5 separate regions of the Homo sapiens genome follow, and regions 2, 3, 4 and 5 are each linked to region 1. Evidence: fine-mapped expression QTL. A gene starts in region 1. Each other region holds a variant in brackets. All regions are shown on one strand. Distances are from middle to middle. Region 1 holds the start of IRAG2 (inositol 1,4,5-triphosphate receptor associated 2). Region 2 overlaps IRAG2 (inositol 1,4,5-triphosphate receptor associated 2). Region 3 overlaps IRAG2 (inositol 1,4,5-triphosphate receptor associated 2). Region 4 overlaps IRAG2 (inositol 1,4,5-triphosphate receptor associated 2). Region 5 overlaps IRAG2 (inositol 1,4,5-triphosphate receptor associated 2).

The links. PIP is the estimated chance that this variant, and not a neighbour inherited with it, causes the effect.
Region 2: its variant is fine-mapped to the expression of IRAG2 in esophagus mucosa (GTEx, PIP above 0.99).
Region 3: its variant is fine-mapped to the expression of IRAG2 in breast (GTEx, PIP above 0.99).
Region 4: its variant is fine-mapped to the expression of IRAG2 in whole blood (TOPMed, PIP above 0.99).
Region 5: its variant is fine-mapped to the expression of IRAG2 in whole blood (INTERVAL, PIP 0.99).

Annotation. Positions count from the first base shown.
Region 1 is chr12:25,050,450-25,055,558 of GRCh38, reverse strand. IRAG2 (inositol 1,4,5-triphosphate receptor associated 2) reads right to left here and starts at 2,853. Exons shown (of 22, transcript NM_001366544.2): 1 at 2,603-2,853. RefSeq lists enhancers at 2,979-3,348, 3,389-3,498.
Region 2 is chr12:25,070,109-25,075,217 of GRCh38, reverse strand. The region is part of intron 6 of IRAG2 (inositol 1,4,5-triphosphate receptor associated 2); the gene reads right to left. Among named protein-coding and RNA genes, the nearest start is that of IRAG2, 20 kb to the right of the region's middle. The variant C/G (reference allele first, on the strand shown) is at 2,135.
Region 3 is chr12:25,084,155-25,089,263 of GRCh38, reverse strand. IRAG2 (inositol 1,4,5-triphosphate receptor associated 2) reads right to left here. Exons shown (of 22, transcript NM_001366544.2): 11 at 1,107-1,164. Among named protein-coding and RNA genes, the nearest start is that of IRAG2, 34 kb to the right of the region's middle. The variant G/A (reference allele first, on the strand shown) is at 2,324.
Region 4 is chr12:25,097,043-25,102,151 of GRCh38, reverse strand. IRAG2 (inositol 1,4,5-triphosphate receptor associated 2) reads right to left here. Exons shown (of 22, transcript NM_001366544.2): 15 at 5,108-5,109; 16 at 827-974. Among named protein-coding and RNA genes, the nearest start is that of IRAG2, 47 kb to the right of the region's middle. The variant A/G (reference allele first, on the strand shown) is at 2,676.
Region 5 is chr12:25,104,074-25,109,182 of GRCh38, reverse strand. IRAG2 (inositol 1,4,5-triphosphate receptor associated 2) reads right to left here. Exons shown (of 22, transcript NM_001366544.2): 20 at 4,721-4,822; 21 at 2,133-2,240; 22 at 848-1,366. The coding sequence ends at 1,123. DNAI7 (dynein axonemal intermediate chain 7) reads left to right here. Exons shown (of 16, transcript NM_018272.5): 16 at 360-894. The coding sequence ends at 635. Among named protein-coding and RNA genes, the nearest start is that of IRAG2, 54 kb to the right of the region's middle. The variant T/AT (reference allele first, on the strand shown) is at 2,441.

The sequences.
Region 1 (5,109 bases):
ATGGGTGCAGCACACCAACATGGTACATGTATACATATATAACAAACCTGCACGTTGTACACATGTACCCTAGAACATAAGTATAATAAAAAAAATTTCCTTTTTAAAGCAAACACTAATTATAATCCAGTCATGTGTCTATTAACAAGATACTTGGATATAAACAAAGTTTAGATGCAGAAGAAATAAAATATATAAGTAACCATTCAAGCAATTGAACAGTTTTCATGGCACATTTCTTGAAGAATATCATGCACATGAATTGCCTCATAAATCAGCCCAGTCCTGAAGGCAATTGAAAACTTGAACAATATCATTTATTCAAGATAAAGTTCAGGATTTCTGATCAAACATCACATATAAATTTCCAGTTGTAGTGTGAACATTATGCACATTGATCTGAACATTTGGACAAACCAGCTGCATCCCCACACAATGTGCTGATGCAACTTAGATGGATCAGAAAACAATTGTCTGAAATACTTTGTGAATTTATTAAACTAGCCAGAGAGTTTCAGAAAAGCTAAATAGATATAAATATGTTTTGTTTTCTGACTCAGAATCAGATGTCTGACTCAGAAATCAAACAGCATGGGGTGGCAGTGGTCATGGCGGGATGTGCGTGGACGTGTTTGTGTGATAACTGCAGTCATTGACATTTGTTTGCAGTCTATCTGGAACATCTGCTATATAGAACATTTTGAAAATACGTGCTATCTAAATTTCCCTCTTCTCTCAAAGATTGAATTTAAAGGGCATTGTTAGAAAGATCGTAAGTACATGGTCATATAAGCAAAATCCTGATTTGTATGGGTTTTTTGGGCAGCAAAAGATACAAGTAACAAGTAAGGGATTTCATAAATCTGGACAGGTTATGCATAACTCAAGACAGAAAGGAAGTGTCCACTCTACGTTATCCAGGCAGAAAAAAATACACGTATCAACCCAGGGCAGCTTTCATATTCTGCTTTTAAGTGTATTTGAATCTATTGGGCCGTGAAGATAAACTGGGAAGACAACAATAGCAAGTTCATAATATCAAGAACGTGCACTTTGGGGTAAGTTATTAAAGTTGACTCTTCTAAGAAAATACTGCAAGAAAATCACAGTGAGGAAGGGGAACAAATTCTTAGTAGTTTATAAAACTCAGGTATAATATTGATTTAATCAAAAGGCAAAACTGGAGCAAAAGAATAGTCCTGGGCACAGTGTCTAAAGCAGACACACCTTAAACCAACTTTGGAATGCCTTATGATTCATGTCTCAACATGAACAGTTCTAATCACAAGGGAACCTTCTCCAATGCCCTCTGAGCAGTAGTAAAATAACACACAGACTGTGTAATTTAAAGACTGCCTTACTAGCTTAACAGAGTGAATCAGAATATTGAAAACTGGCAAATTCAATAAAGGTTTAAAAATTATGACAATAATATGTTGAATAACCACTGCTATTTTAATGTTTTATTTATTTATTTGTTTGTAATTTTTGTAGAGACAGGGTTTCACCATGTTGTCCAGGCTGGTCTCAAACTCCTGGGCTCAAGCAATCTGCCCACCTCGGCCTCCCAAAATGCTGGGATTACAGGGGTGAGCCACTGTGTCCGGCAAACCATTGCTATTTTAAAACTAGACTATTTCTTAAACTCCTAAATAGCTTTCTCAGATAATAGTAGAAAGGGTACAATAAATCCAAAACAAACACAAGTCTGAAATTTTTCATCTCTAGCCTACCTTAAGCTTATATATTAAATATATAATTATTTATAATTATATAACAATTAACAAATAAACAATGTTTATTTCTCAAACCAAGTAACTTTCTATAAAAAGAATATTTATACTGCTAGAACAAGAAACTGGCTGAACAAAAGCAATTGTCTGATAAATGGCTAAATAAGTAAGGTTTATTTTTACCATATTAGGTTTCTAGAATGAAACAATTTTATAGCTAATCTGACATCTGTAATGTGACAACTGTCTTCTCACATAAATCTCTGGTAACTGTTTATATACTTTTGGGTAATACAGAAAAATGACAAATATTCCAATTTTTAAAATGCAAAATATGTATGTAGATGTATGTAGAGAATGCATTAAAACTTTAAAAGAATTTTCACACATTTGATATTTTGATATACACTGAATTCATAATTATTTTGCCCAACCCCCTAAAATTTCCAAAGAAAATAGACGAGCAAGGCCTTTTCTACCATATGAGAGGAAAAAAACTAGCTAATAAAATCAGAGTATAATATATAACAACTTGCAAGTTCAAATATACCATGCATACTAGATTTTTCTCCTTGTTTACTTTTAGAAATTTTGAGAAGTTTTAATTAATTTTAAAAGAAAAAAACAGCCACAGACAAAACCAGCTTATAATAAAAAGGCAAAAAGGGAAGTTAATGGTTAAACCCATGCATGCACCTAGCCACTCAGCAAACCTCTCTGAAAGCCCCACAATATTGCCTTCTCAAACCATTTCATTGTCATAAACTCAGGAATAATATCCTAGCTGTAATCTAGAAAAATGTCTGTAGTCCTATGCCCCGCCTGAGGGTGGACAAAAACTGGGTCATAAATGAATATTTGCTACTCACTCTTCAGTTTCCTTGTCTTCTGCTGAAGTGCCTGGCAAGTGTTCGATAATTCAGTATTTATAGTTTGAAGGTTCCGTTGTTCCGAAATTGCTTCCTCTAATTTATGCAGTAAAGACGTAGCTTTTTCACTGGCAGTGTGGGCTTCTCGATCTCGATCCTTACCCTGGACATGGATAGTTAGTGCTGGATTGTAGCAGTGTGGCCAGGAAAGAAAGCAATGGAGTGCTCACTCTTATGATGCAGGCAAAACTGAAAATGTGTTTTTCTTCTCAGGGAAGTGATAAGCCTCTCCTGAACTTCTGCAATTCTGTGTTTGCATGGGCTTGGTATGCCTGAGCTATTTCTACAGCGGTTAAAGTCCTGATATGTCAAGTTGCCTCTTTCTGCAGAGTCGCCTCTTTCATCAGCAGGCTGTTGATACCGCCTCTCTTACAACTCCCCCTTTACTTCCTCTGCTCACTGTTAGTCGCTAGGGACTGAACTTGCAGTTCCTCTTTGCTTTTTTTTTTTGTTTGTTGTTGTTGTTCCTCCTCCATTTTTATTTCATGGTTTGCAGGGCATCTGAGGAGATGTCCCCTGAATCTAATGTAGCCATGAGCCACCCTACCTGCTCCTCCACATCCTCCAGCCGTTGGCTGGTTTCTTGGAGCCTCTTCCTAAGGATGCCTTCCTGGTTGACAGCATCTTCCTGTAGTTGTTTAATGGCTTCTAGTTGTTTCTGACTGGAGTTAAAAAAAAAAAAAAAAAAAAAAGTCCAAACCGCAAGCTGTCAGTGACATTTCAACTAAGAGTCACCCTGTGAAATTATGACAAACTCAAACTTAACACCACTTCCTTAGAGATCAGAGGAAAAAGTGAAAGTATTTACATATAAATGCTTCACAAATATAAAATCTTAAGCAAAGCTTATTGGTCGCTTAGCCTGACACCCTCACTTTACAGATAAGGACTTCTAGTTTCATCTTTTACACTGGTGTGTTCAGTTCCCACCAGCTGCATTCATAGCACTTAGCATCAGTTGCCAGTTGCCAGTTACTCAGAAGATGGCTCTACAATGAGGTCAGGGTGACAGGTGCAACATTTACACATCACAGCTAGCTTTTACAGAAAAAGAAAGGAATGGGGTAAAGGTAGGGGGAGGGAAAAGAAAAGGAAAGAGAGCTTTGTTTCATGACCTTAGCCTTTCTCCTTAAGGGTTGTCAATCATAGTATAAACACGTGCCACGAGCACAGGAAGGACCGCCCCCAGGCACAGATGAAAGCTGGCGGTTGATATTTCTACTTTAGTCCTCTTTTTGCTGAAGCTTTTCTCCCCATCACCCTTCCCCACCACAGATCTCATGGTGCCATTACGTTACACCTCATTTGGATCCAATTCTAATCTCTAAAACATGTAAAAATGCACTTACTCTCTGTTAGCAGATGAGATTATTTAATGTGTGTTACATGCCAGTACCTCAATGATTATCTGGAAACAATCTGACTTGAATATGGACCTTAACTCAAAGTGGTGATAAATGTCGGGAGTTGCAAAACAGCAAGGAAGACATTGTCAGCCGTAGGCCTTGTGCATGCCTCTCAAACGTTAACATTTAGTCAGAATGCCACTGCACACTGGCACAAATCCAGCCCTGGTTACACGAAGGACCACATGAGAGGCAAGAATGGTCTCACAGAATGCTTACCATACTGGTAAACAAGCAAACAAAATCCTAAGCAAAAATAAAAACTGCCTACATCACCACACTTTCCACTGAGCGTCCTTCAATAGCTTATCGTTGTCTCTCTCACTCTCTTTTTCTCTCTTTTTCTTTAACTGTGGCAGGAACATTTAACAGGAGATTTACCCACTTAACAAATTTTTAAGTGTACAATACAGTATTATTAACTACAGGCATAATGTTGTACAGCAGATCTCTAGAACATCTTCATCTTGCATAACTGAAACTTTATACCTATTGAGTAGCAACTCCTCATTTCCCCTCCCCTAGCTCCTGGCAACCACTATTCTCTCTCTTTCTATTAGTTTAACTATTTTAGATACCTCAGAGAAGTGGGATCGTGCAGTATTTGTTGTTCTGTGACTCACTTATTTTACTTGGGATAGTGTCCTCCAGGTTTATCTATGTTGTCATATGTGGCAGAATTTCCTTCTTTTTAAAGGTTGGATAATATTCCCTTGTATTTATATACCAAATTTTCTTTATCCAATCATCCGTGGACATTCAGGTTGTTTCCAAATCTTGGCTATTGAGAATAATGCCGCAGTGAATATGGGAATGCAAATAGCTCTTCCAGGTGCTGATTTTAATTATTTTGGATAAATACCCAGAAGTGGGGTTCCTAGATCAGATGGTAGTTTAATTTTTAATATTTTGAGAAAACTCTGTAACTGTTTTTTTTTGTTTGTTTGTTTGTTTGTTTTTTTTGAGACGGAGTCTCGCTCTGTCTCCAGGCTGGAGTGCACTGGCGCGATCTCAGCTCACTGCAACCTTTGGCTCCCGGGT
Region 2 (5,109 bases), 20 kb before region 1:
GTCTGTTTAAATGTTCCAAAAAGAGGAACAATGCTAAGTTGAATTTTAAAAGATTAGAACTACTGGAACCTAAACAAAGCTAAATTTGCTTATAGGTTTGCATTTATTTTTTCTCTTTCTAACTAAAGGTATACCACACCCTCAGATCTACAGGTTACACCCACCACTTTCAGGTTCATTTATAATATAGTTATCAGTCAACTTCTACATGTTCCAATTTTGCAACTGGCAATGTTATTTATTCTCCAAGGTTATTAATGCTGCACCCACATACAACTTGGAAGAACAGGACAGACAATAGCCAGAAAATCTTCTGAGATATTTTTAAATTGATCCTGTTCTTGGCCTTAATAAATCACCGCCTCCCAGTGATAGTACATCTTAGACAAAAGCATGTAATAACATGAAGGATAACGCAAAGAGAGACAAGACACTTAATATTTGGTATATGTAATTTTTTTAACAGCCAAAAGAAAAACAGAGAAATTCATCTCCAAATCATTGGCTTGTTTCAAGATATACTCTGGCCTTCATGCTGCTGATAATTCTGATTCTGGGAAATATGACCAGCTAATTTTCTTTTTGAGGTTTTACTATGATTCAGGTATTTTGCGTATGTTACAGAGTATCTTGGTGGGGTCAGAGTTGAGACTGAAGTAAGATAGAAGGAAGAATCAACTTTGTTGTCATAGGACAGTGTGGACAACAAACCAAAAGAACTGCAGAGACATGAGTCGTGAAACCAACTTCTTGGCCCCACAATTTCTCGAGAGGTTAAAAGTCTGCATGGAAGCCACTAGTCGGTGAGGCCTGAAGAACATGGGGATATATTTGGTATTCACCTCTGGAACTCACTGGAAATGTTGGGAAATGACTCCATGAAAGGAAAGGCCTTCTTAGTCATCAGCAAGTGGGGAAACAAGGCATTGAGAGGCAGTGTCTTGCCTCTACATATGACCTAGTTGGTTTGTTTCCATGGACAGGTTAGGCCAGAACTCAGTGATACAGATATGTGGAAATATATGTATATATGTAAAGTATTTGTGTGTGTTTATTTGAATCCTCAAAAGAACTATGAAAATCAATGTCTATTTCACAGGGGACACAGCAAATTCAGACAGGTTAGGTCATGTGTCCAAGTTCACACAGCTAATAAGTAATAAAGCCAGTCTTCAATCTAGATGTGCTTCATTCTACAGCCTATGCTATGTGGCTAAAGATTCTAGAGCATTACTAGGAAAAATTTCAGATAAATACAAAAGTAGACAAAACAAAGAATCTAATGAATCCTGGTATATCCGTCATGCAGATTCAACAATTACCAACCTATGGCCAATCTTGTTTCAAACTCTCACCCTCTAAACCTTGTTTTGAAGCAAATGGCAGACATCATAACATTTTTATCCGTAAATATTTCAGAATGAATCTCCAAAAGATAAGGACTGGAAATAATTTGTTTCCTTCTTTCCTAACTACACCAGAATATCCCAAATAAACTAATTTATTGGGTGAATAAAGAAGTTCTTTCTTCCTCAAGAATGTCCCAAACAGGGCTCCAAATTATTTTACTTTGAGATGTTCTTTTTGAGACATTAACCTTGTTAGCGTTCTTTGCTCTCCCAAAGACCTGCTTATGAATAATGATGTTCACTTTTATATTGCACTGTGCCTTCTGGGAAAGATATTAGAAGACAGCTTCCTCTGTGAATATGGGGAAGGAACAGAAAGTAAATCTCAAGTTCTTAGGAGCACCAGCCCAAGAAATGAGTCAGAAAGCAGTAAGCTAATTGAGTGCTCACTCTCAGTGTTTTAAACAGACGTTGTAGTGAGTACAACCTAAATAAATAGGCATTCAACAAATATTATTGGGCAGCTACTGTATATAATCCTATGCAGGGTGCTACATGCGCATTGGTTAATGGCCAAATAAAGGTACTGTCCAGCAATTTTATCACCTAATACACAAATAAATATAAGAAAATAAATAACTACAATGCAAACCAGCATACAGATGACAAGAAATGTGGGGCACAGAGAATTACAAGGGTCTTAAAGAAGGAAGTGAGCTTAGTTTTTTTCTGAGTTGGATCATTGAGAAATGAGGAAACAGGCCTGAAAACACGACTTTCCCAGA[C/G]TCACACAGAGGCCAACCCACAGAAAAACCTCATCTCCCCACTCTTAATCCATTATGATTTCCACCTCAAGAAGGACTGGAGATGCTTGAATGTCAACATTTTATGCTACCACAAAAAAAGTTTTTATTGGTTTTTGAAATGGGGCTTGACAGTCTAATAGAATTTTGATAAATGGAAAAGCATACATTGTTCTGGGCAAAGAAAACAGCACAAACACGTTTGCGTGATATATTCTGACAATATAGGCTACCTGGTTTGGCTGACGTACAGGCACAACCATACACAACAATGGGGAAATAAAGGTAAAAAGGTAGACTGCAACCAGTTTAGAGAGGGACTCCAATACCAGGTCAAGTTGTTTGTTATAAGGCTGTAGAGATTGACAGAATCCATCATTTAGAGACAAGGAGTTAAGAAAACACCCATCGTCTGGGGTGTCCACTGGGATGATAAACATATATTATGTTTTTAAAATAATTTATATCTTATATTTTACTCTAATTCCCTGTAATTATTACCAATGACAATGCTTAGAAAAGCGTTTTCTAAGGAGAGCTTTCTATTTTCTTAAGAGATAATGTGAGTATAAAATGATGGTAGGTGGGGAGTTGCTCAAGGGACAAGGGTCAGAGGCAGAGAGTACAGTTACCAGGCTGTTGAGATTCTCCAGTGGAGCAGAAACCTGGAATGGGAAGGTTGAGAATTGGTGGGATCAGTCAGAAGGTGCAGCCAACAGACTAATTCCTGGGCTGTTGCAAACTACAGAAGACACAAGAAAATCTTCAGGGAACTTACAGGAGCATGTGACTGGAGGCTCGATTGTGATGTCTGTTAGCACCTATTTCTTTTTTTTCTTTTTCTTTCTTTTTTTTTCTTTTGAGATGGAGTTTCGCTCTTGTCGCCCAAGCTGGAGAACAATGGCACGATCTCGGCTCACTCAACCTCCTCCTTCCGGATTCAAGTGATTCTCCTGCCTCAGCCTCCCAAGGAGCTGGTTTTACAGGCGCCTGCCACCATGCCTGGCTAATTTTTGTATTTTTTAGTAGAAATTGGGTTTCACTACATTGGCCAGGCTGGTCTCAAACTCCTGACCTCAGGTGATCCACCTGCCTCGGTCTCCCAAAGTGCTGGGATTACAGGCGTGTGCCACTGCGCCCAGCCCAGCTCCTATTTCTTAATGGGTGTGAAGCACAGACAAAACCACGCAGTCACATATCCTAATAAGAGTCAATATGGAGGTCCTTTTAGATATAAAAGGCAGTACATTTCTTAGCCAAAAAAAAAAAAAAATACTTTCAAGGTAATGCTAAGTAATTATGATTAAAATGTCTAAATTCAGTGTACTAAGAGTAGCCATGACAAAGGCCTGTATCCTTTGAAGCTGGACAAATCTGAATTTTAATCCCAGGTTTGTTATTTATTAATTGAGTGATCATGGGCAAGTTATTTAACTCCCTCAACTTCAGTTGCCTCCTTTGTAAAAAGCAGAGAAGTGTGGAGCAGATTAATCACATGGCATGTGGGAATGCTTTTGTACAAAGTTCCTGGCACACAACTGATATTTGTTTCTTCCTTCTTCTTGGTAAACTCGGTGCCAGATAAAAGGGAAATTACTAATAACCAAACATCCTGTAAGCTTCCAAGTTCAACTTCCTTTACTAAAACTTTATAAGAATTGCTAGGTAAGAGCAAGATATATTTTTAAAAATTTTCAATTTATTTTTATTTTTATTTTTTGAGATGGAGTCTTTTCCTGTTACCCAGGCTGGAGTGCAGTGGCGCAATCTCGGCTCACTGCAACCTCTGCCTCCTGGGCTCAAGCAATTCTCCTGCCTCAGCCTTCCAAGTAGCTGGGAGTATAGGTGCCCGCCACCTAATTTTTGTATTTTTAGTAAAGATGGGGTTTCACCATATTGGCCAGGTTGTTCTTGAGCTCCTGACCTCAAGTGATCCGCCCACCTTGGCCTCTAGGTAAGAGCAAAATAGATTCATTTCCTTTTTCTTAGCTGCTCAGACAGGTATTTATGAACAAAAACAATGCCATATACCCACTCAACAGGAAGAATAACAACAACTTGTACAATTCAATAGTGAAAAGAAATATAATCCCATCTTTAAAATGAGCAAAGGATCTGAGTAGACTTGTCTCCAAAGAAGTTATACAAATGGCCAACAAACACATGAAAAGATGTTCATTATTAATCATGAGAGAAATGCAAATCAAAAATACAGTGAGGTATCACTTTGCACCCACAAAGATGGCTTTAATAAAAAATAGGCAAATATTTAATGAGGATACAGAGAAACCGGAATCTTCATACATTGCTGTTGGAAATGTAAAAGGATATAGCCACCCTCGAAGTCTGTTTTGCAGTTCCTCAAAAACATTAAACATAGAGTTACCATATGATGCAGTAACTCTGCCACAGGAATACACCCAAAAGAATTAAAAACATGTTTACACAAAAACCAATACACTGATGCTCATAATAGCATCACTTGCAATAGCCAAAAAGTAAAAACAACTCAAATGCCCATCAGCTGATGAATGGAAAAACAAAATGTGGTGTGTATCTATACAGTGGAATATTATTGAGCCATAAAAATGAATGAAGTACTGATATCATGCTATGACATGGATGAATCTTGAGAACCTTATGCTGAGAACCTTGAGAACCTTAACTGAAAGAAGCTGGGCACAGAAGGCCATATATTGTATGAATCCATTTATATGAGATGTCCAGAATAGGCAAATCTATAGGACAGAAAGTAGATTAGTGGTTGCCTCCAGCTGGGGGTTGGGGACAGGAGGAAATAGGGAGAGACTACCAATGGGTACGCAGTTTATTTCTGGGGTGATCAAAGTATTCTAAGACCGATTGTGGTGATGGTTGTACAACTCTGTGAATATACTGAAAGTCATTTAAGTGAATAATTTAAATTAATGAATTGTCTGGTGGGTGAATTATATCTC
Region 3 (5,109 bases), 34 kb before region 1:
GATCAAGGCTTTATTAGCAGTAGCAGGAACAGTAGTAGTAATAATAATAGTAGTAATAATAATACTGGTAACAATAACAGTGACAATAAACATGGCATCAACCATGGCTTTATTATATTGCCAATCACAGAGCAAAGCATTTTACACATATGATTTTATGACAACTTTACCAAGGACTATGTATTAGTTATTAAGAGCATTGGATTTAAAGTCAAACAAACTTGGTTTAAGTCTGAGCTTTGTTTGAATCTTACAGTTATGTGAGCTTGAACAAGTCACAAAGTCATTAAGCCATCTAAGATAAGATTGATAAGATAAAGATATCTTATCATCTAAGATAAGATTGATTTTTTTATAATAGTAACTAACTTTTATGAGAACTTTGGTGCCACTTTTCTAAGTGCTTCATACATATTAATTTATTCAATCCTCACAGCAAACCTTCTGTTGTAGATACTTTTATTGTCCACATTTTATAGGCTAGGCAACTGAATCACAATTTACCACCTCACATAGTATTTGGAGGACTAAATAAAACTATGCACATGAAATTAGCCTAGTTCTCAGCATAGAATATATTCTCAATTAAGTGTACTTTTCTTCTTTTCATTTTCCTCTTGCAAATGAGAAAATTGAGACTTAAGGTTAAGTAACTTTCCAAGATCAATAGCTAGTCAGAGATTGATCCCATGTAGAGTCTCTATGACTCCAAAGCCTGAACTCTATCCACTATTCCATCCCAATGGAGGTAGGCTAAGGGGAAAAGCATATTAGCACTTATTCTGTAAATAGGGGCTTTACTTTTAGATGGGATACTAAAAAAGAACTAACAGTAGAGCATAGCATTTGCTACCAACATTCGCTTGGTTCTTAGTTCACAATAGAGCACCAGTTATTACAGGTTTTCTGGGATCGCACAGTCAACACAATGCAAATGTGGCTTTTTGAAAATGACACAAATGGAATCAATAATCGGTCCTATTGACTGACCTTATCCAGAGATGCAGAATTTGTAAGTGACATAGCTTTATTCAGACAGATTTCACCCACAAAAATATCAGCAGAGAACAAAAGTTCACATGGGGATTGAAAGAAACATTCCTTACCTCCTGAAGCATGTTCTTTTTTATGTTCTTCTATTGTTTCTGGTTCCTCTTTGGCTTCCTAAAATCATAAGATTTTACCACTGTACATAGAGTGGAAATACTTCATAACCAGTCATTTTCCTACTTCCTGTCCTCTCCTAAGCCTACTCTGACAAAAACACTCTATAACAGCAGTCCCCAACCTTTTTGGTACCAGGGACCAGTTTCCTGGAAGACAGTTTTTCCACGGGGGTGAGGTGAGGGGGAAACAGTTTCTGAAGGAACCTGTTCCACCTCAGATCATCAGGCGTTATTCTCCTAAGGAACATGCAATCTAGATGGCTCGCTTGCACAGTTCACAATAGGGTTCGTGGGAATCTAATGCCACCACTGATTTGACAGGAGGCAGAGGTCAGGTGGTCATGTTCCCTGGCCTGCCGCTCACCTCCTGCTGTGCGGCGCAATTCCTAACAGCCTCGAATGGGTTCTGATCCCTGGCTCAGCAGCGACTGGGGACCCCTGCTCTACAGTTTTTAATGCTGTTAAGAAGGAAATAAAATTGGCTGCAAGGGCGCTTCCAATCTAGTTGAAGCAAAAAGGGCGTAAATACATGAAAAGATGCAAACATGATGTGAATTACAACAATGCAAACTAGGATTAATTGCCAAATAAATGAGATAGATAAACAAGTGCTCTTAATAGGAAGGAAATGGCAGGGCGCTGTGGCTCACGCCTGTAATCTCAACACTTTGGGAGGCTGAGGTGGGTGGATCACCTGAGGTCAGGAGTTCAAGACCAGCCTGGCCAACATGGCAAAACCCCGTCTCTACTAAAAATACAAAAATTAGCCAGGGGTGGTGGTGCAGGCCTATAATCCAAGCTACTCTGAAGGCTGAGGCAGGAGAATCACTTGAACTGGGGAGGCAGAGGTTGCAGTGAACCGAGATCATGCCACTGCACTCCAAGCTAGGCAGCAGTGCAAGGCTCTGTCTCAACAAAAAAAAAAAAAAAAAAAAAAAAAAAAAGGAAGGAGAGTGGCACCATGACACCATGACTTGAGTAGCATGGAATTTCTGCAGACAAGAAACATGCTGAAGTTTGATGAAGAGGTAGGACTGGATAGATGAAAAGGTAAGGTGTGGGTGATATAGGGCTATCACATGGAGTTTTCTAGATAGGTTTTTGGAGAAATTGTGACAAAGATGGCTGCTAAGACAGTGTTATGTTAGGCTTTTACC[G/A]CATATAGATATGTTTTAAGGTCACATAAGGAGTTGTGTGTGGCTGCTGTTTCTAGCTCTTCCTCTCCCATTCGTGATCAATTAACTACTCTACCCCTTTACACAGCACTCCAAGAAAAGTGTTCTCACCAGCTATCAACTCCCTATTGCCAAATCCAGTGGATAATTTTCAGTCTTTATCTTACTTGACCTTACTATAGCATCTAAAATTATCTATACATCCTTTCCTCTTGAAGATTTTTTCCCCTTGATTTCCCTGTTCTGATGCCCCAGCCCCGCGTCACAGCCCGTTCTCAGTCTCCTCTGCCTTCTCTAGTAGATATTGTTAGCCAGGATTCCATTATCCTCAATGCTCCCTTCCTTCCTGCCACAGTCCTTGGGAAATCTCATCCACACACTTGGATTTTTGCTGATAATTCACAAATATATGTCAGCTTTCAAAAACCGCACAGGTGAGTTTATGAATATGGGTATGCAGCCGTATATAAAATCTCCTTACCGACTATCAATGTCTCAGATCAGCCTGAAATTTGACTTGTCTCAAACTGATCTTATTTTACCCCACAAATTCTACTCTCCTTCCTCCTTCCCTACTGTCATGTTATTCTATTCATTCGGTAGGTTAAGCCATAAGCCTGGGTATCTACCGTTTCCCATACCCGTGACATGTCATCATCCTCTGTGAATTCTACCCCTAAATATTTCTCAAATTTATCTCCTTTTCTCCACCTTCACTAAATTCATACTACCTTCATCTCATCTGAATTATTGCCATAGTATCCTAACCAGTCCCACAACTTCCAATGGCAAATTGATCCATTATTTTAAAAAGTGTCTTTATGTCTATATTTTTTTTGAGATGAGAAGGAATTTTATTCTCTCAGAAGATTCTACTATGAAAGAGTAAAGGACTTGAGTTTTCTTCTGTTCATTTTTTACTAGGAGCAACCATTTTCAGCATATGTGCTAGCCAACACTATATCCTACCTATACAGCTGGCCCTCTGTATTTGTGGGTTTGCATCTATGGATTTAACTAAAAAAAATGTAGTTAGGCCTACAATGGTTGTATCTGTACTGAACACACGCAGATTTCCTTTCTTGTCATTATAACTATTTACATAGCATTTATACTGTATTAGGTATCATAAGCAGTCTAGAGATGATTTAAAGTATATAAGAGGATGTGTTAGTGATATGGGAGGTGGGCAGGGAAGTGCTGGATAGAGAAAGGCGGGGTCCCCAGTGAGGGCTCCACCCTCAGGCCTGTGCCTGCAGACCTAAGTGAGAACAGGCACTCCTGTTTTTGTGTCTGAATGTTGTATTTTCCAAGACCACTCTGGCCTACCATGCCCCTCATCCTGTGCCAACATAAACCCGAGACCTTAGTGGGCACACAACACAAGCAGCTGAAGTGAGCACACAACACTGGCAGACCAGCAGACTGGCAGACTGACAATAGTGGAATGACATGGCAGAGAAAGAGAGAAGAGGGGGGATGTCTGGATGCCAAGGGGAGTTTAGCCTGGGGCAGTTGGAGAAGAGTATGGCCTCTGGGCAGCCTGACTCCAGGGGAATACCCCCTTCCCATTCCATACCACCTTCCCACTCCATCCCCCCTTCTGGCTCCGCATCCATCTTACTGAGAGCCACCTCCACCACTCAGTAAAACCTTGCACTCATCCTTCCAGCTCACGTGTGATCTGATTCTTTTGGGACACTGAGCGACAGCTCAGGATACAGAAAGCTGTCACACTGGCCCTCTGCCCTTGTGATAAGGCTGAGGGTCCATTGAGCTAATTAACACACAAGCTGTCTGCAGATGGCAAATCTGAAAGAGCTTTGTAACACACACTCACTTGGACTTTGGGAATCACAGACACTGACCCCTAGATGCTGCCAGGGGGCAGAGCCCAAAAGCGCTTGCCCTGGCCTCTGCAGCTGCTGGTCTGCATGTTCCCCCTAGGGGCTTGAACTATGGGGTGACTAAGCAGGTGAGACACACCACTGCTGCATGTCCTGCAAGGGGAATCAGGGAACTCTCCCGTTTCATTAGGTTATATGCAAATACTATGCAATTTTTATATAAGAGACTTGAGCATTCTCTGATTTTGGTATCTGTGGGGTTCTTGGAATCAATCGCCTCTGGATAACAAAGGAAACGAATGACATCATGTCATTGTTCCAAATCACAAATCCAATCATTTCACTATCTTTAGAATGAAATGCTGAAAAATTTTCATCTACTTTTTTGCCCCAAGTCTGTGCCATGGCCTCCTCTTAACTTGAGTTAGCTTGCATGGGTCTCTGTTTCTTGCAACCAAATGCTTAACTAGAACAATGCTTGTATATTGAGAAGAAAAAAACAATAATACACACACACACACACACACACACACACCCCTCCATGCATACAACATAGCAAGACATAAGCAAGACATAAGCAAGACCCTTGAAGAATCATGAAATTAGACCTGTAGTTACTCTTTAATGATTATTAATTCATAGAAGTGGAAATGAGTCTTCTCTCTCTCTCTCTTTTTTTTCTTTTTGAGACAGGGTCTTGCTCTGTTGCTCAGGTTGGAGTGCAGTGGCATGCTCATTGCTCACTGCAGCCTCAAACTCCTGGGCTCAAGTGATCTGTCTGCCTTGCCCTCCTATATAACTGAGACAACAGTCAAGCACCACCATACCCGGCAGATTTGTTTTTATATTTTGTAGAAACAGGGTCTCCCTATGTTATCCAGGCTGGCCTTAAACTCTTAGGCTCAAGCAATCCTTCCACCT
Region 4 (5,109 bases), 47 kb before region 1:
TTTATGTTAAAGCAACGTCTTAATTCTTTAAAGGTAAAGCAAAATTCAGAAGATATTAAGACTTTAGAGACTACCGAGCAATATAAATATCTGTTTATCATTCATTTCATTCTTCATAACAATTACCATCTTAACCAATGGAATACAGTCCTCTGTGTCACTGTGATGTCCATAATGCCTAGCTAGCACAGGGTAGGCACTACATGTGTGTCTGCTGGAGAAAGGAATCCAAAAGTACAGTTCAGAAGAGTATCAAATATGGTTACTGTTCTAGAACAGGGAACAGATTCTTGAAATAAGAATTCTGCTCAGAAAAGTTCATATTGTTTATTTTAAATAAAACTATTGTAAGATTTATAGAAACGATATGTTACTCCCCGTGGCCTCATATGTTTCTCTATTTTCCAGTTCATCAATCAGCTTACTGTGCCAGGGTCATTCCTTCCGTGAGGAATCAAAACCGTTGCTGATGGCAGCGCCCATTTAAATTATTTATCCTTACTTTTTACGTGTGGAGAAATTCTAATGTATCCTAAGTAGGGGAACACTAAGGTCAACTTCATGAGTTGGATTAAATATATTCTGTCATCTCAGTAATCTAAATTGAGTTAATAAATTTTTGGTGTCATTACTAAAGAATCCTTCATGTGTCCCAACCTGTTTTCTGACACCTCACTTTTAGCTATATAAATAACAGGAATGAATTATTTTTCTAATATAAAGTTAACCTAAGAGTTTTATTATACTGAAGTAATAATAAGACTTAGCAAAAAAGAGGAGAATGTAGAAAAACACAACTAATACTATTATCATAAACTTTTATTACCATCATCTTCAAGAGGATTGAAAGACCTTTCATTCTGCAGAAGAACCTGTTTCAGTTCTTCTAATTCAGCGTGCTCTTTGGCATACATCCTCTTCAAGTTTTCTACGTGCTGAATCATCACTTCAACTGCTTTACTAACCCGGCTTTCCTAGCAAGAGAAAAAACGAGCACATTTACATTGAAAATACTACTCTCAATTAAAAGATGGTGATTAAACACATTTACCTTCACTCCATTCCTAAATCCCACTAAAGTGGCAATAAATGTTTTTTTTTTAAAAAGACATGCATCTACAGGGGCAAACAGAAGAGAATATGACAACAAGACTTTGAAAGCTGGATAGAAGGACTAGTGGCAAATGACTAAGACCTGGAAAAGCTGAACCCTAAAAAAGGCAGTAAGAAAAGCCTAGAAGCAACCTACACTGCACCTCAGTAAGGTTGATGGTGGGTATGTGAACAGAAGAAATGGTTGAAAGTCTGTGTAAAAAAAAAAAAAAAGATTAGGTCCAGAGACTCCTTCCTTACTGTGGCCAGCACAGCAATTTTCCCTCCACTATTTTGGTGAAAGACTACATACAGTTGGATATCTAGAGAGAGTTAACTTGAGGTTCTGTGGATTGGGAAAGAACAGATAGTTGATGATGGATCTATCATGCTGAAAACAACAGATTTAAGCAACAACTTATATGCATATTGAATATTGAGATCCAGCCTTATTCCTCCTTCCAGCCTCCAAACACTGGCAGCCAGAGTTACACCCTCAAGGCAGGCAGTTGGAAGGTTTTTCTCTGGGGATTCTAATATTCTAAGATAAAAGTCCTATAACTAATGACATTAGGAGTACCCCAGTGAAACATCTGGAATGTTCATAGTCCTATGAATATTTGTGTACAAGTATCTGAGTGCCTGTTTTCAATTCTTCTGGGTATACATCTAGGAATGAAATTGCTGAGTCATATGGTAATTCTATGTTTAACTTTTAAGGATCCACCAAACTGTTTTCCACGGTGGCTGGACCATTTCACATCTCCCAGCAACGTACAGTGTTTGCAATCTCCCCACATCCTCACCAACACTATTCCTTCTTTGCTTCCTCCCTCCCTCCTTCCTTCCTTTCCAACTTCCTTACTTCCTTTCTTCTTTCACCATAGCCATCCTCGTGGGTGTGAAGTGGTATCTCATTGTGGTTTTGATTTGTATTTCCCTAATACATTTAAGGATGTTAAATATCTTTTTACCTGCTTATTGACCATTTGTGTATCTTCTTTGAAGAAATGTCTATTGAAGTCTTTTGCCCATTTTTTTTTTTTTTTTTTTTTTTTTCAGATGGAGTCTCACTCTTGTTGCCCAGGCTGGAGTGCAATGGCACGATCTCGGCTCATTGCAACCTCTGCCTCCCGGGTTCAAGTGAGTCTCCTGCCTCAGTCTCCCGAGTAGCTGGGATTATAGGCACGTGCCACCACACCTGGCTAATTTTTGTATTTTTAGTAGAGACGGGGTTTTACCACGTTGGCCAGGCTGGTCTCAAACTCCTGACCTCATGATCTGCCCATCTTGGCCTCCCAAGGTGCTAGGATTACAGGCGTGAGTCACCGCGCCCGGCCACACATCCTTTCAAACCACAGTAAGACATTGGGTTTTACCCCAAGTAAACTGAGGAGCTTTAGGACGCTGAACCAAAAAGTAACACAATCTAATTTTAAAAGGATTACTCTGGCTCCTTTATTAAGAACAGACTATGTTGGGAGGAGGGATTGGAATTGGATGGAAGCAGGGAGACCATATAGGAACCTATTGCATTAATCTGGACAAAACAGAATGGAGGCTTAGATCAAGATGGTAACAGT[A/G]GAAAGGGAAATAAATGGTTGAATTCTGAATATATTCTGACAATTCAGCCAATAGGATTTTCTGTAGGATTTAATGTGAAGTGAGAGAGAAAGGTGTTGAGAATTACCCCAGCTCCCTCTGCCCCTATTTTGGCCTGAGCAACTAAAAGGACAGAGCTGCCCTTGAGTGAAGTAAGGAGCTTATGCATGGGGTAGGTTTGGTGGGGGGACCATGAACAGTCAGTTTTGAATGGTAGGTTTGAGTTTATCAAACATCCAAGTGGAACTGTTGAGTCAGCAGTAGCATACTCTGCTCTGGAGCTCAGGGGAGTGGGTTAGGCTAAACATATGAATTTGAGAGTCCTCAGGTGACTGCAAGGGATCACAGGGGGATTGCGTGCACATGGAGATCAGATGTGCACGAGTGGAGTCCTGGGGCTCTTCAATATTCAGAGGTCCAGGAGAAGGGGTAGAACTGCAGGAAGCCTAGAAGGAGCAGCCCGTGATGTAGAGAAAAGCTAGAGGACATGGTGCCTGGAAGCTAAGTGAGGAAAGCATTTCCAGGAAGAGGAAGACATCAGCCATGCCAGATGAGGACTGAGAAACTGAATTTGGTAATGTGGAGGTCACTAGTGACCTTGGAAAAATCTGCTTTGTGGAAGCAAAAGGCTGATACAGAGTGGGTTGGAGAGAACGTGGGAGGAGGGAGACTGAACACAGTGAGTACCATTCTGTCGAGGTTTGCTGTAAATGGGAGCAGAGAAACAGGGTGGTGGCCAGAAAAGAAAGGATAAAAAGTTATTTTGTTTGTGTTTGTTTTGTGTTATTATTCCCATCTAGAAAACAACATATTATTTGTGTGCTGATAGAAATGGTTCAGTAGAGTGGAGAAAATGTAAATGGAGAAAAGTCAGGAGAATTTGGTCCCATGACTCTGAGTAAATTAGTCGGGAAGGCTCCCATCTACAGTGGGGAAGGCTGGCCTTGGATAGGGTTAGAGACAACGCATCTTTAGGAACAAGAGCAAGGGAGTGTGTAAGGATTCACACGCTGGGAGGCTTTGTGGCAGTTTCCTTTGATTGTCCCAGTTTCCTCAGTGAGGTTGGAAGCAGTCATTACCTGTGTTTGAGAGAGAATATGGGGAAAGACATGACAGTGGTTTGAGGAGAAAGGAAAGGGTGGGAAATTGATATTTAAAAGAGAAGGAGGGTGATTGAGGGGAAGCCCCAAGGACCCGCTTGAGGTTTGTGATAATGAATTCAAAGAGAAACAGGTCAGCATGGGAATGTGACATTTTCCAGCTATGCAGGCATGAGAGGTGGAGAAGCGGATTTACTTGTAGATTCGCCAAATGAGTAAGACAAAGCAAGAAAGGGGTAAGTGATGAGGGGACATGCAAGGTAGTGAAAACTATGTTTAACTGTGGAGTATAAGCTTGGCCAGGAAAGCAGGATGGCCAACAGTAGCTTGAGGGACAGTGAAAAGGTGTGATGGGCCAGAGATTGATAAAAGAACTAAATATTTGTCTTCGTAGTGGAAGAGCAACAGATAATACCTAAAACTGAAAATAAATCACTAAATGGCAGCATGAGCATGTTATTGAAAAATGTGAATGCAAATACAAAACAAATAAGACAAAAAGTTGAAAGTTGTTTCTCTGGATCACGGGAAATTAGTAAGGCTTATAGAGCTGATTGACCTTTTAAAAAACTATGTGCATATATAACTTTAGTAAAAATGAAACAAAGAATAACAGTATTCTCTAGTGAGGGGTTAAAAAGGAACTAAGGTGTGAAAGTATATAACAAATGATCAAACTAAAATTACTACCACAATTAAATTTCTCCTTAAGAAAATATATTTTAACAAGTCTGCTTAGGTATAGATTTAAAAAATTCATATCTCCCCAGGTTTGCCCACAAAGAAATTTTGGAATTCTACTTCTCTAAGGACAAATACACACAGATGCATATACAAGGATATTTACTGGAGCATTGTTTATAACAGAAAAATACCAAAAACATCCTGAAATGATTGAATACAAGGAATTGGTTAAATAATTTATATCTACTCAACCAGTAGAATACCATAAAATGGTGACATGTGAGTATATAATTATATCACACAGAAAGTTACCTATGTTGTATGATGAATAAAAAGCAGATTATAACACTATATAAGGGATTATAAACACTATATTATAACACTATACATCTTGAAGAATATATCACAAAAATTTTATGATTGTCACTGGATCGTATTATATTTTTTTAACATTTTTTATTTGTATATTCCATTTTTTCTGTATTAAACACATATGTATTAAACGCATATGTCTTATACAACAAAAGTATTTTTTAAAACTTATTCCTAGAAGTGAGAAATCCATAGTCTCAGGAAAAGTGAATCTTTTTTGTAATTTCATTCTAACTAGAGAAATGAAGACAGGTTACCT
Region 5 (5,109 bases), 54 kb before region 1:
AGCCCCTTGAGGGCAGGGCTTTGTTGTTGCAGTTGTTATTTATATATGTTGTATGTCTATATTTCTTCTGTGTTTTCTTTCTCTGTTATATCCCCAGCACTTAGAACAGTACCTCACACATGATAGGCACTCAATAAATATTTGTTGCATGAATTAATACATGTGGATAAGCTCCATAATCACCAAAATATAAACAGTGTGATGGTTTTTCAAAACCCAGTAATGGAACACATAGACTGTTTCTTTTAACCTTTGCAATTTTGGGGGATAAATTGAGCCCTTCAAATAATAATCTGCTACCAAAATACTGAATAGAAGAGGAATTATTAACAACTTGCTTGAATTTTTTTTTTTTTTAGGTGAGGGAACACCTTACTGAAGCATGTACTGAGAATCCTAATTGGGCCCTTTTAATGTTTAGTGGTGACAGAGCACAAAGACTGAAGATCAAGGAAGAGAGTGAGGCATTTTCTGAAGCACTTAAAGAAGAAACTGAGTTTCATTCTACTTTATATCACATGGTGAAGGATTTTGCTTCTGAGGAAGCAATGGAGAAAGTCAGGAGTTCCAACTGTCAGTTTGTCAACTCTGTGTGCCACATGCTGCTCTCTACCAGATTGCTCAGCTACTCCTAACCTCCACTTACAAACTGTATTGTAAGTATGAAGAACCAAGCATGGTGAAAGACAGGTATTTCTGCAACACAATGTAATGAGTGAATGAATACATTTCAAATCAACTATTAAAAATTTTCTAATCTGCATTTTCTACTCAAGTTTTATTTTAAAAACAGTATTTTTTTTTCCTTTGAATACTTGGCCTGTTAAGAATTTCAGCTTTCACTCTATGAAGATTTAAATGATTCTTTATTTCAATAAACTTTAACAAACAATATATAATATTTCTTCCTTAAAAAGCTCATTCAAAGATCATAGGCAGACTTCTTCCCCATTGTATTTTAGTTGGGGAGATAAAGGCAAAAAGAGGAAATGTAAGCTATCTTACAGTCATTCTGAGAACCTCTGGTTTCATGCTATACTTTCCCAGCTAAAAGTTACTAATTTACGAAGTTCAGATACTGAAACTTAAAAATCAAGATCCATATATTAGGATGTCCTGCTGTCACACTGGTGGTGGCCCATTGTGTCGGAGTCTGGTAAATGGCCACAAGATATGTTCTAGAGACGTCCATGAGTCCTCTTGCTGTGTGGGAGCGGCATCCACAGACTTCTGGAATAATTGGCCTGTGAGGAAGCTCATCAAAGCTGCAAACAGTACAATGAATGCAATAGAGAGCCAGAGGGCCTTATTAGCCTTTCTGATGGAGGACTTGAGATTTGTTGCCCAGGAAGCTATTGTGTCATAACTATAAGGAAAACACAAATAGAATTTGGTAATCGGTAATTTGTCATTAGAAACATTCCTTTTGCTAACACCACCAGTCAGGTGATCTGCCCTTCATACCCCCAAAACTGCCTTTTAATCTACATATTATGATTTATCATTTTGGTTTTGGAAACAATCTGCCTCCCACCCTTTGTACCTATTAGGATTAAAGAAATGATGTGCTACGATGAGAATCTGAAAATTACGTGATGTAGGCAGTATCTTCTAATAAGTACATACAAGTATCTCATTCTTTCAGTAAGGTAAGGCAACATATTCCTACAGTGGAAACAAAAATGTTATTTGCTGGGTAGAGTGGATGTCTGTGTATGTACTTATGTGTGTGTACAGTAGTCCCCCTTTATTCTTGTGGGATATGCTCCAAGACCTCCAGTGGATGCCTGAAGCTGAAAATAGTACTAAACCCAGTATATACTGTTTTTTTCCTATGGATACATGCCTATAACAAAATTGAATTTATAAATTAGGCATAGTAAAAGATGAACAATAACTAACATAAAATAGAATATAACATATATTACAGTAAAAGTTATGTGAATGTAGTCTGTCTCTCAAAATAGATAACATAGGTTCAAGGATAACCTGACATACAAAGTTTGTTATTCATCTTAAATACAACAATTTGGCATGTCTTTTAGTAATTTGATTAGGATTAATACTGTCAGCCCTGCCTCACCCTTTCCCATTCCACTAAAATGGTAGAATTTATCAAGTAGATAACTTACACTGAAGAGACATCCCACTTTGATGGATTATTTTTCTTTTCAGAAAGACTTGGCTTCCTTGTCCTTTCTACTGTTTCTTCTCCAGATGGCTCTGAGTCATCTTTAGTTCTGTAAATAAATGTTGTTTTTAATATTTGAAACTAAGGATAATATGCTATAATTATTCATAAAATATTGCTGAATCTTACTGTAACTCAAGAGGCTCACAAATATTTGTTCTGTTTTAGGGAAAGTCGATAAATATCTAACTCTAAAAATCAAATCACCAGATTTATAATTTAAACCTTTTATAGAAATTTAATTAAAAA[T/AT]AAGTTCTTCTATTTAGAAAAATAATAAATGTGTAGAAAGTTAGTTAGAATATTAGCCAAGTATATACAATAGAATATTAGCCAAGTATATACAAAAAGGGAAAATTTAAAAAGAACTTTCAGAAGTTAGTCTCATCATTAACCAATGTTATTACTATGAATTCTTTCTCTGCATATATATATGCAGAGAAACTCTGCCTAGGCTGGAGAAGAAACTCTGTTGCCTAGGCTGGAGTGCAGTATATATAAATATATACTATATATACACATATTTATATATAATATATACACACATATCTACATATAATATATGCATATTAATATATGCTTATACAAAGTTTATAATATATACACACATATTCCATAATATATATATTTATATATATAAAAATATGTATGTATATGTTGTATATATGTTTTGTATATGGATGTGTACATATACCTGTGTGTGCGTGTGTGTATGTGTATATATAAAACAAATGTGGGCACCATATCTCTTCCTTTTAAATTTTATTTAACATTAGTAAAAATCTTTTCTCATTATTATTGATTTTATTCCTTTCTCTGTATGATTTCCAATCAGTGCTAACTTGGAGTAACATCAGAGTTTTTCTCTGAAAATCTTAATAATTTAAAACGTGTTTTTGAAAATATTCTCAGTATAAAACTGGTTAAAATAAATTAGTATTCAGTGAACTGGGAAATAGCAATTGATTGACTGCATTTTAAATCAAATCATATTATTTAAAGAGGTGTTCTTCCACCTAAGCAAAACATAATTGTTCCACTATATTTGCTGATGAGTTCCTAGTTGGATTTGAATTTTGAAATCTCAAGCTCATAATACCCTCAGAATTGCCAAAGGGAAATGTGTCTCAAAGACTTTTTTTTCATTCAAACATCTATGGGAAATAAATATGATAGACTTTAGTTTTTAAAGAAAACAAGACCCAAAAGCCAGAATAAATTGCATTGCATTTCTGTAAGATTCTCAAGGTTTCAGTCTTGTTTACAAAGACTTCTCAGTAGAAATCATACCATACTAACAAAAAGCAAAAACTAGATAATCTTTTGAAGGAGACTCTTGAACTGATTTTTTTTTCCAACCAGCTCAAATTCATTATGTTAACTCTAAATCTGAAAAGAGTTTGTAACACATGCAGTAGGCTCCCAGGACTTTAAAAAAAAGAAAAAAACCAAAACAGATTATTTGAGGATTGCACCATGTCATGCTCATCTTTATATTCCTTAGAATTGAGCAGAGTGTCCATCCCATGGTAGGCACTCACGAAAATGTATAAAATAAAATAAATAAACATAAAATCATCTCCTTAAGATCCTTCACTTTAACAGATATGAAAACTGAAGGCCGGGCGCAGTGGCTCAAGCCTGTAATCCCAGCACTTTGGGAGGCCGAGGCGGGCGGATCACGAGGTCAGGAGATCGAGACCATCCTGGCTAACACAGTGAAACCCCGTCTCTACTAAAAATATTAAAAATTAGCCGGGCGTGGTGGCGGGCGCCTGTAGTCCCAGCTACTTGGGAGGCTGAGCCAGGAGAATGGCGTGAACCCAGGAGGTGGAGGTTGCAGTGAGCTAAGATCGCGCCACTGCACTCCAGCCTGGGTGACAGAGCAAGACTCCGTCTCAAAAAAAAAAAAAAAAAAAAAAACTGAGACCAAGTAAGGTTAGGCACTTTTTCTAATGTCACCCAAGGACTCAGAGGTAGCATTTCTGCATATCCCTCCTTCTTGCCCTCTACCTTTCACTGTAGAAGTATATTTGTTTAGTTTACTAGATACAGAGATAGCAATTCAGAATTTCATGTTTCCTCTACTCTTCACTTACATAAATGGAAGATAGATAGATGTACATACATGTTACATATGTGCCTATATGTTATATAATACGTACGTTATATATCTCATGTTTTTAAAAATATATAAATAGATGGACATTTTACTTCTGTGGCTCTTTATTGACCTTTCCCCATTGTAGACAGACACCTGGACAGGAAAAAAATTATCTTCACAAATATGGCAAACTCCAGGGTCTTTTCTAACTTAAGACCTCAAACTTTGCCATTCTGAGAGCTATGAGAGTGAATGTATTAATATTCACAAATAACACTTATATTGTGCTTTACAGTTTATAAAAGTGTTTTACAATGAATTATCTTTTTAATTATACAGCATTATTTCATCTCCATGGAATAAAAGTGATTCCCATTGTTTATGCCCCAGTTCATGTCAGGTTAATAAACACACTGAGCTTCACCTACTTTAGTTCACATTTTTCTTCTTCAGCATCTGCCCAGGAATAGGTGCTAATAAATCGAGGTAATGAGGGACGGTGTTCACTCTGCTTTGACCCCAAAATACGCCTAAATAAAGATGATTATAGCCACTTGTCAAATCAAATACATCTGTAGCCATTATCAATTTATTTCCTACTGCTTAAGTAAATACAAAATTATATGTCCTAATTATTTTTTTCTTGGCACATTCACAGATCTCCTACTTTATGATAAAAAACTTCATAATTAGATACCAATTTATATAATTATTCTGTTTACACTTTGTACAAATCAAACATTACTATATCACTTAATTTGAGCACTCATTTAGGTTAGCCCAAGTATAAAATAGTAAGGTTCCCAAAGAGGAACCA